Linked DNA regions of Homo sapiens: region 1 is linked to region 2. The links come from fine-mapping of genetic effects on gene expression. A gene starts in region 2. The other region holds a variant in brackets. All regions are shown on one strand. Distances are from middle to middle.

Region 1 (5,372 bases), 30 kb before region 2:
CAAAGCAGATGGGATGTAGTTTCCATTGATTCATCTACTCAGGAAATATTTACTGAGGCCTATGGCATGCCAGCCTTGTGCAAGGTGCAGGCACACACAGGGGAATGAGATAGAGACAGACAAGGAGCTCCTGGTTCCATGCAGACAGCACGACCTCAGAGATGTCTGTCTCACCCTTCTCCATGGAGTGAAAGCTCAAGCAGAAGAGATCTGCTGTCATGAGAGAAAGAGGCCAGAGGTGGAAAATGGCACCCCCTGCAAATCCCATTAAAACAAATCCCAATATGGCAAGTCAATTATATAATAAATCAGTATTACCAAATGCTAGGCACTTATTCAGTTACAGAATAAGCACATTCAAGGCAATCCAAATATCAAGACTTCAGACTGTATTCCAGAGTTCCAGGAATGAGGATTTGACATAAATCTCCACCCATGAACAAGGAAACTTTAGAATGCTCTGGGAGGATGGCTGGGAGGGATGCCACCCTATGGAACTGAGACAGCCCATAATGTTCTCTGCAAGTGAATGGGAGACAGAGAATCTCCACAGGAAACCTCAAATAACCCCAACCACCATCTGCTCTCCATGGGGGCCCCTTCAGCCCTTTTGCAACATTTCCACTTCATCTAATTTAGGCTGGGCACGCTGGGGAGGACCAGGGGTGCCTCGGAATACAGCATCAAAAGCATCCATCCTGCTTCCTGACTTGCCCTAGATTTGCTTAAAATGTAGAGGTGGCAAAGAGAAATCAGGGCAATAGTAACAGGCTGTTATTCAGAAAACTATCAAGGAAGAATAAAATCAAGTGGAAATGGGACTGACTCCATCTCCAACTGATATTACTGCGAGTTAATTTTCTTCATCAATGCTGGGAGAACAATAGCAATTCTACACCATGTGTTTGGGGAACGTTCTGCTCAACTAGTTAATTAGTTCACAATACAATCTGAGGCTTTGAGGGTGACACAGACATCTAGAAGAAGCGTGGTCCCTGGAGCCAAGCGGATCTGCCTCTCTTTCTGCTGGCTGTGCAGTGAGGAGCAAATTTCCTGTCTCAGTTTCCTCATCTTGCATGGAGTGTTGTTGTGAGGATCCAATGAGATGATGCACTTACACTAGCACTTAGTGCAGTGCCTGGCTCAACACATTTAATTACTGGAATTGGGGCCCCTATTTGGAGTGTCCACCCCATACCCAGAGGAAGCTTAGCACCCAGCGCAAATTAAGGGTCTAAGAAATGGTGGGTGTTTAGTCTCCCTCGCCTGTTTCTGAGTATCGTGATGCTTTTTTTTTTTTTTTTTTTTTTGGAGACAGGGTCTCACTCTGTCATCCAGGCTAGAGTGCAGTGGCATGGTCATGGCTCACTGCAGCCTCGACCTCCTGGGCTCAAGCAAACCTCCCACTTCAGCCTCCTGAGTAGAGGGATTACAGGCATGCACCATCAGGCCCAGCTAATTTTTTAGTTTTTGCAGAGATGGGATCTTGCTATGTTGCCCAGGCTGGTCTCAAACTCCTCCCTCCTTGGCCTCCCAAAGTGTTGGGATTATAGGCATGAGCCACCAAGCCTGGCCTTGTGATGTTTCTTTAAAGGCAGAGAAATGAAAACACTCAATTCTGAAAAGCTGGTCTTCTGTATCTTTTGATCCCATCCATCCTCTTAATCACTAGAGGGCTTTCCTGCTCCTCCAAAATGCTCCCTTTGACCTCTGTCCTCCATGTTTCCTTATGTCTTGCCTGCAAACCTCAGTGTTGTTCTTTCTTTTTAAGTGTGCCCTTACTGCATCTGTGTTTCATAACCTACATTTTCCCCATGACAAAGCCTCTCCTCTTTTCATGGAATATCAATTATTAGAAAGAAAAACCTGCACAGATGGATGTAGTTTAGCAGTGGGTTTCTCTCTACCTCCCAATCAACATGGAGTTGTTCACAGAGGAGTCACTACAAATGTTTTGCAAGGTAAATGTTTGCAAAAAGTGTCTTTAAGAATGGAGCTCCCGGCTGGGTGCGGTGGCTCACGCCTATAATCCCAGCAATTTGGGAGGCCAAGGCGGGCAGATCACGAGGTCAGGAGATGGAGACCATCCTGGCTAACATGGTGAAACCCCATCTCTACTAAAAAATAAAAAAAATTAGCCAGGTGTGGTGGCGGGCACCTGTAGTCCCAGCTACTCGGGAGGCTGAGGCAGGAGAATGGCGTGAACCTGGGAGGCAGAGCCTGCAGTGAGCTGAGATCGCTGCACTCCAGCCTGGGGGACAGAGTGAGACTCTGTCTCAAAAAAAAAAAAAAAAGGAGTTCTCTTTCCCAAAATGAAATTGATTTTATTCTTAAATAACAGCATTCTTGCCAACGTTTAGGTAAGTACATAATAATGCAATTCTTAACATAGCTACCACTGCTTTTCTGATGGTCTTCTCCTTCTCCCCTGCCAGCACTGGTAACTCCAGGACTCTCTCCATAGACTCTGTTTCAAACCTCACTTCCTAAATCATCTTCAGGAGCACTCTACCCCACCGAGAAGAGGGTATTGGCATGTCTTTTACCCTTCATGCATCACTGTCTGCATGGAACTCATAAATAATGAGGCATTTGGCATGCCCAGT[G/A]TTCTGCATTCCAGGTTTAAGAGCAGCCTTTCCCCCAGAAACAGGCTTTTGGGCATTATCCAAAATCAACATGGATGGTATCCAACAAGACCTTAGAGATGCTATTTTTCTTTGACTGTGCTGTGTCAACTGGCTACTGTATAGGACTTGATACATTTTTAATGACTGTACTGAGTTTCCTCTGAACTTGTCACTTTTCACCATTTCCAGTTAGTGGGTCTTAATTTCCCATAGGAAAACCTTTAGCCAGCCATAGAGTTCATTCTTTACCGGTTCGATTCTCATTAATTAAATATCCTAAGTGGAAAAGCTCTTGCGCCTACTGATTGGGACACCCAGAGGGAAATCAACAAGAATGGAATAAAATCTCCATGCACCCCATCAGGAAAACCTTGACTGCTCCATGATCAAACTGGATGCAATTTAAAAAAATAATATCATGTGGGGCCCTCTAACTCTTTCTTGAGATTCTGATTAAAAATCTAGGTGATAAGATCACTTGGTTCACATATCTCAGAGACAAGAGGAACCTCGGCACTTGAGCCAAGGGACAGGAAAGAGGTCAAACATAGAGATGAATGGCAGGTGACACTCAGCCTAGGCAGGTGGGACCAGAAGAAGCACTGAGCTCCCTGTATTATTCTGTTTTCATGCTGCTGATAAAGGTACCCGAGACTGGCAAAAAAGAGGTTTAATGGACTTATAGTTCCACATGGCTGGGAAGGCCTCACAGTCATGGCAGAGGGCAAGGAGGAGCAAGTCATGCCTTACATGGATGGCGGCAGGCAAAGAGAGCTTGTGAAGGGAAACTCCTGTTTTTAAAACCACCAGATCTCATGAGACACATTCACTATCACGAGAATAGCATGGGAAAACCCACCTCCATGATTCAATTACCTCCCACTGGGTTCCTCTCATGACACGTGGGAATTGTGAGAGTTACAATTCGAGATGAGATTTGGGTGGGGACACAGCCAAACCATATCATTCTGCCCTGGCCCCTCTCAAATATCATGTCCTCACATTTCAAAACCAATCATGCCTTGCCAACAGTCCCCCAGAATCTTAACTCATTTCAGCATTAACTCAAAAGTCTACAGTCCAACATCTCATTGGAGACAAGGCAAGGCCCTTCTGCCTATAAGCCTGTAAAATCAAAAGCAAGTTAGTTACTTCCTAAATACAATGGGGGTTCAGGCATTGGGTATACCCACTCCAAATGGGAGAAACTGGCCAAAATAAAGGGGTTACAGGCCCCATGCAAGTCTGAAATCCAGCAGGGCAGTCCAATCTTAGAGCTCCAAAATTATCTCCTTTGACTCCATGTCTCACATCCAGGTCATGCTGATGCAAGAGGTGGGTTCCCATGGTCTTGGGCAGCTCTGCCCCTGTGGCTTTGCAGGACACAGCCTCCCTCCCGGCTGCTTTCATGGCTGGTATTGTCTGGCTTTTCCAGGCACATGGTGCAAGCGGTCGGTGGATTGACCATTCTGGGGTCTGGAGGATAGTGGCTTTCTTCTTACAGCTCTGCTATGTGGTGCCCCAGTAGGGGCCCCCAGTAGGGACTCTTTGTTGGGGCTACAACCCCACACTTCCACACTGCCCTAGCAGAGGTTCTCCATGAGAGCCCCGCCCCTTCAAGCAAACTTCCACCTGGACATCCAGGCATTTCCACCATCCTCGGAAATCTAGGCAGAAGTTCCCAAACCTCAATTCTTGACTTCTGTGCACCTGCAGGCTCAACACCACACGGAAGCTACCAAGGCTTGGGGCTTGCACCCTCTGAAGCCACAGCCTGAGCTGTACCTTGGCCCCTTTTAGTCATGGCTGGATTGTCTGGGACACAGGACACCAAATCCCTAGACTGCACACAGCACGGGGACCCTGGGCCTGGCCCACAAAGCCATTATTTTCCTAGGCCTCCGGGCCTGTGATGGGAGGGGCTACTGTGAAAACCTCTGACATGCCCTGGAGATATTTTCCCCATTGTCTTCGGGATTAACATTTGGCTCCTCGTTACTTATGCAAATTTCTGCAGCCAGCTTGAATTTCTCCTCGGAAGATGGGATTTTCTTTTCTATCATATTGTCAGGCTGCAAATTTTCCAAACTTTATGCTCTATTTCCCTTATAAAACTGAATGCCTTTAACAGCACCTTCAATAGCACCTCTTGAATGCCTTGCTGCTTAGAGATTTCTTTTGCCAAACACCCTACATCATCTCTCTCAAGTTCAAAGTTTCACAAATCTCTAGGGCAGGGGCAAAATGCCTTGAGTCTCTTTGCTGAACATAACCAGAGTCATCTTTGCTCCAGTTCCCAACAAGTTCTTCATCTTTGTCTGAGACCACCTCAGCCTGAACCTTATCGTTCATATCACTATCAGCATTTTTGTCCAAGCTATTCAACAAGTCTCTAGGAAGTTCCAAACTTTCCCACATTTTCCTGTCTTTTTCTGAGCCCTCCAAACTGTTCCAGTCTCTGCCTGTTACCCAGTTCCAAGGTTGTTTCCACATTTTCAAGTATCTTTTCAGCAATGCCCCACTCTACTGGTATCAATTTACTCTATTAGTCTGTTTTCATGCTGCTGATAAAGACATATCCGAGACTGGGAAGAAAAAAAGGTTTAATGGACTTACGTTCCACATGGCTGGGGGGCCTTACAATCATGGCAGAAGACAAGGAGGAGAAGTCAAGTCTTACATGGATGGTGGCAAGCAAAGAGAGCTCATGCAGGGAAACTCCTGTTTCTGAAACCATCAGATCTC
Region 2 (5,301 bases):
CAAATCTCCCATCAAAACCACCCTAAGTTACCATTCAATCTAAAAAAATCCTGTACTTGCTATGCAAACACAGTAGAGTCAAGGTCACTTCCAAAGTGACACCTCCTAATCAGTTTGTTCATCCCAAGTCTTGCCTATGTGGAGATTCTGGAACTGTCTTCTGGGACGTGGGAGGTGATGTGAGGAGGGGCTTGTGGAACACGGCTAAGAGTCCAGCAGATAGTGTGGGCTCAGGGGGAGAACCATGGGGGTGTTATTCCTCCTTCACCAATCTTGGGCCCATTCTGGTCTGCTGCAAGGTTTCCTGCCTGATACCCAGTTATGGTGGTGCCATCATGGCCTGCTGATGGGCCGCACCATCTGGGATGGGATGGGGGCTGGGAGCCAGGCACTTCAGATACAGCCGGTGTGTCCCTAATCATACTGGTCCTCTGCCTCGCCTCCTGTGCATCAGCTGAAGCCCTGGATTCCTGGACTAGCCCTGGGAAGTCTTTCATGATGAATCTGACCTGAAGCCAATCTCTTTTGTCTTTTGTGCTGCTTCTCCTGGCAGAATGTCTATGTAGCACAGCCATGTGTGGGAGCCTCAAGGAGGCTCAACTTGTCGCCCCACCTCACCAGCGAGCTCTTCTAGAGTGCACAGGGGCAGTAGCTACAGAGCGCTCAGCACATGCACCCTGGGCTGTTTGCAACTGCCAGCCTTTTTTGCAGCTTGGAGGCCACTTCCTCTCCGTCTAACTCTTCCAACCTCCCTCCCCTGCTCCAGGTCTCTTTTTGCCCCCCTCAGAATTTATTTCTACAGCATCTTCCCTAACCCCCATTAATCACTTGATTATTCTTCAAGGATGAACAATCTTTAGGGGTGTGGCGCAGACTCCCCCAAATCATTTTCCTTCTGCTGGGAAATAAACACAGCTGATTGTAGCTGTGCTACATCTTTGCTAAAAAATTCTCAATGGCTCCCAGGTGCCTCTAGGTAAATTCCAGCTCCTCAGTCTGTCAGTGAAGGTCCTACCCCCGCCTCCATCCCATTAGCCAGCAGACCTTCCTAGTCTTCCTTCCACCACTCCAACCAGCTCATGGGGCCCCTGAGTGCGATTCTCTCCTACTCTAGAGTGCAACCGCGCTTTCAGTTCCCAAACCCAAGTTATGCCTAACACGAATTGATTCAGCCCAAAGGTCACTTCCCTGGTTCTTCCTGGTGGAAAATTTTCCATCTTTTGAACCGTCATTGGCACTTTTGCTTCCTCACTTTCAGTCTGCTGTTCTGATTTTTTCTCGGTAAGTGTGAAGTCGAGGGCAGAATCTTTTAAAATCTGCACTTCCCCTCTGACTGACTCAGTAAATGTTTAGTTTCCTGTCCCTATCTGTAAAAGCCTTCTTCCCCATGAACTCAAGCCGTGTCTCCTTCATTAGACTGAAAATCTCCCAGAGCAGAGCGTCTCCAATTTAAGGATCATTCCAATCCTTTGGGGACTTTGTTAACATGCAGATTCTGACTCGGCAGGTCTGCAGAGGGGACTGAGACTGCATTTCTAACAAGCTGCCAGGTGACGCTGAAGCTGCCGGTGCCTGGACCACATTAGAGCAGCGGGGAGGCAATACCACCTGTTGATCAGGCGACAGCTCATGTCAGTGGAGTCTGGCTGGGCGCCCAGATGGATGAATGAAAGGATGAGAGGGTCGGTCCTGCCCCCCGGAGGAAGTGGAGGCCGCCCGGAGGTTGTCAGCGAGTCCGGCCAGCACACTTACCTATGGTGGAAACGACGGTGCCCACGAAGTAGAAGGCGCCGGTGAAGTCCCAGCGCGGGCGGACGTTGTCCACGCGGATGCCGGCCCGAGTGGCCTCCTCGTAGTGGCGGAGGAAGCCGCGCAGCTCGTCGCGGCTCAGGTTGTGGCCGCGGCTGAAGTTGGCCAGGCGCTCCTCCCAGCGCTGCTTGGCCTGGCGCTCGTGCGCCAGCTCCAGCGCGGAGAAGACGGCGGCGCCGCCCAGCAGGTAGAGCACGATGAGCGCGGCCAGCAGCAGAAAGCGCGCGTTGTCCTCGTTCAGGTGGCCCGGGCCCCAGCTGAAACCCCGGCCAGCCATGGCCGGGCCCCCGGGGGCAGCCCCCAGGCCCACGGCACCGGGCGTCGGCGGAGTCTCGCCCACACCCCCGGGAAATAAGGGCCCCGGCGCTCAGCCAGCTCCCGGGCGCCCCACCGCCGGCTCGCCCATGACCGCCGGGCTCTCCCGCAGGCCGCGAGGCTCCCCCGGCCGCCGCCTCGGTAGCTCCTGTGGCGCCAGCTCCCCACGTCCTCCTTGACTCCTAGTTTCAAATCCGCTTTGTCGCCGCCGTTCCCCTCCACTCCCCCTGCTCTCCTCGGAGTTCTCCTTAACGCTGAAGGTCCCGGGGAACGGGCGCAGAGTTCACGTCTGCTTGGCGCTGGGATGCGGGCGCAGTTTCCACCCCGGCTCCCTGTCCGGCTCAGATAGGGGAGGGGGCGTGGCGCGTCTTCAGGGCAAGCTCGAGCCAACTCGAGTTTCCCGCAAAGAGACGGTCGCGGGGCGGGGCGGGGCGGGGCGGGGCGGCGGGGGGGGGGCGCGGTCCGGAGGTCTGCGGGTAAGCAGAGCGCCGGGGTCCTGGGTCCTGGTTCCTTTGACTATCGCTTCGCAGGCCGCCGACGGCTAGGACACGGGTGTCAGTCTGCTGGCTTTGTAGGTGCCTCCCCAGGTAGATCGACGATGGTGCCTCCTAGTTGTGGTCGTGGTGTCGCGCTGAGCCTGTGGCCTCCCGAGTCTCCGAATCGGCTGCCGGGGCTTAGGGATGGAGGGGGTCCAGGGCGGGCGCACGGAGAGAGGGGCTGTGCTGAGCGGCGTCCGAGGGCTGCGGCGTCCGAGGGCTCCGACCTCCGGCCGGGCCCCAACGCTGCGCATCCGTTGGGCGGACGGGCTGGAGAGAGGAGACCAGAAAGGGAGGTTGGAACAGGGAGCAAAGGAAGTTAGGGGCTTCTCCCCCGGGCAGCCTCCCTCGCCTTGACCATGCCAGAGCGCCCTTGGTCTCTGGATCCTGCGCGGGGGCGTCCTCTGCGCCTACTAGTAGGCTCCGCCCGGACCAAGCGCGCACCGCGAGCCAGCCCCGCTTCCGGAGAGGAGGCCAAACACTGGGGGCTGGAAGGGCTCCGCGGCCAGGAGACCTTGACCTTGGAGCGTTCCATCTCTTCCCCCCGGGCTTGGCTGCCTAGTGCGTTCCAGAGTTTTGCCTGGACGCGGGGTCCGCGCAGAAGGCATCCCCCACCTCATGCAGAACAGTAGCAAGGCTCTCCAGCAAACCGCCGGGGCCCCCTCCCCGAGACCCCGCCTTGTAGCGGGCGCTGGCGCCGCTGCCGCGCTCAGATCTCACCTTCCGGGGAGCGCCCTCTCCGCGCCGCTCCGTCGGGACTGTTCCCGGGCCTCCTGGCAGCCGCGGCCCTGCCCTGCCAGCCGGCGCGCGGAGCACAGGTCCGCACCGCGCTCTGCCTTCTCAGGCGGGCGCGCTCCGACGCTGCAACAGGTAGAGCCGTGCGGCTGCCAGCTGCGGCGACTCCACCCTGTCGCCCGCCTCCTTGCGCGCGGGCCCGCCTCCTGCGCTGGTCTCCGCGGGTAGACGCTCGGCGTTCGAAGGGCCGACCCGGGGCTGCGGTGCTCCCACCAGGGCGCGCAGATCTGGGTAGTGGATGCAGAACCGGCTGGTGGGACGCTCAGCCGGTCCGCGTGGGCCCTCCGGGGCCGGGAGAGGGCGCTCTGCCCCCTCCAGACACATCCCGCCCCCGCCCGCGCACACAGCCCCGCGCGGCCCTCCGGAATCACCCGCCCGGGCGTGTGGGAGCGAATCTGTACGCGGAGAGGAATGGATACGTGGGCATCTTCCCACCTTCCGAGAGAGCGGTTTCAGGCGCAGAGCCCCACACACCGCCCTTACGCACCAGGAGCAGAGACAGAAGGGCTAGGAGCCCTGTTGAGTAAAACCGTGTGATTTCGAATAAAGAAACACAGCTCTGGCGAGTGCATTTTCATCAGAAACCCTGGTGCTGTTAGCAGTCCTCTCGGCTCTGTTACTCACTCCCCAATGCCCCTCTTTCATCTAGCCTTCTGAGGGGCAAGAGCTTTAGGGGCATCGCGAGAATGGGTGCATGTGTATACACCCAGGGTGAGTACTGCAATTACCTTTTAAATCCATTTTATTATGAAAAATTTCAAACATTCTAAAAAGTTGAATTTTACAGTGAACACCCGTATACCCACCACCTAGATTCTACAATTAACATGTTACTATACTTGATTTATTAGATATCTACCCGTCCCTCTGTCCATCCATCAACCCATCTTGTTTGGATGCATTTCAGAGTAAGTTGCAGAGCTTGGTACACTTCCGCCCTCATCCCCAGTACTTCTGCCTGCATATCACTACGTAGGGTTCAATATTTACTTGCAGAATTTTTTTCCTTTTCGGATAAAATTTACATACAATGAAATGCACAAATCTTAAGTGTATCATTAGGTGAGTTCTGACAAATGGGTACACCTCTGCAAATCACCTATCCAACCTACCAGCCAAACATCACCAACAGGGTCCCCCTAAGTCCCTTCCCTGTAACTCCCTACCCACATTCCTCCAGAGAAAACCACTGTTCAGAATTTTTCTACCATCGATTACTTTCGCTTTTATAGAACTGTTTTTTTGTTCTAAATCTCCATATAAATGGAATCATGCCGGTATGTACTCTTTGGTGGAAAACATTATGTTTTTGAGATTTACCCATGTTATATGTCTTAGTAATTCCTTCCTCTTTATTGCTAGTTTTTCATTGTTTGGGTATACCATAGTTTGTTTATTCATTCTCCTCCTATTGATAGAAAGGAGAACTGTTAGAAAATTTTGGTCATCATAAATAAAACTGTTAGGAACATTCTTGTACAACTATGTAGACATATGTTTTCATATCTCTTACGTAAAGACCTAGGAGCGGAATTGCTGGGTCATAGGGTAGGTATGTATTTTGCTTTATGAGAAACTGCCCGACATTTTCCCAAAGCAGCTGTACTGACAGTGTACACTAGTTCTGGATGCTCCGTATCTTTGTCAACATTTGGCAGTATCAGTCATTTTAATTTTAAAACTACTGGTGGATGTAGCAATATCTCACTGTGGTTTTAATTTGCATTTCCCTGATGTCTAAAAATACTGGTGGATGTAGCGATATCTCACTGTGGTTTTAATTTGCATTTCCCTGATGTCTAATGCGCTTGCTGGCCACTTGTGTACCTTCTCTTGTGAATTTTCT

The links.
Region 1: its variant is fine-mapped to the expression of KCNK13 in left ventricle (GTEx, PIP above 0.99). The same link has a PIP of 0.9 or more in atrial appendage and thyroid.

The regions. Positions count from the first base shown.
Region 1 is chr14:90,088,851-90,094,222 of GRCh38, reverse strand. The region is part of intron 1 of KCNK13 (potassium two pore domain channel subfamily K member 13); the gene reads right to left. Among named protein-coding and RNA genes, the nearest start is that of KCNK13, 30 kb to the right of the region's middle. RefSeq lists an enhancer at 4,301-4,801. The variant G/A (reference allele first, on the strand shown) is at 2,607.
Region 2 is chr14:90,058,991-90,064,291 of GRCh38, reverse strand. KCNK13 (potassium two pore domain channel subfamily K member 13) reads right to left here and starts at 2,298. Exons shown (of 2, transcript NM_022054.4): 1 at 1,753-2,298. The coding sequence starts at 2,086. LOC124903406 reads right to left here. Exons shown (of 3, transcript XM_047432048.1): 2 at 3,381-3,890; 3 at 2,559-2,930. The coding sequence ends at 2,666. RefSeq lists enhancers at 2,356-2,855, 2,856-3,357 and a silencer at 3,606-3,995.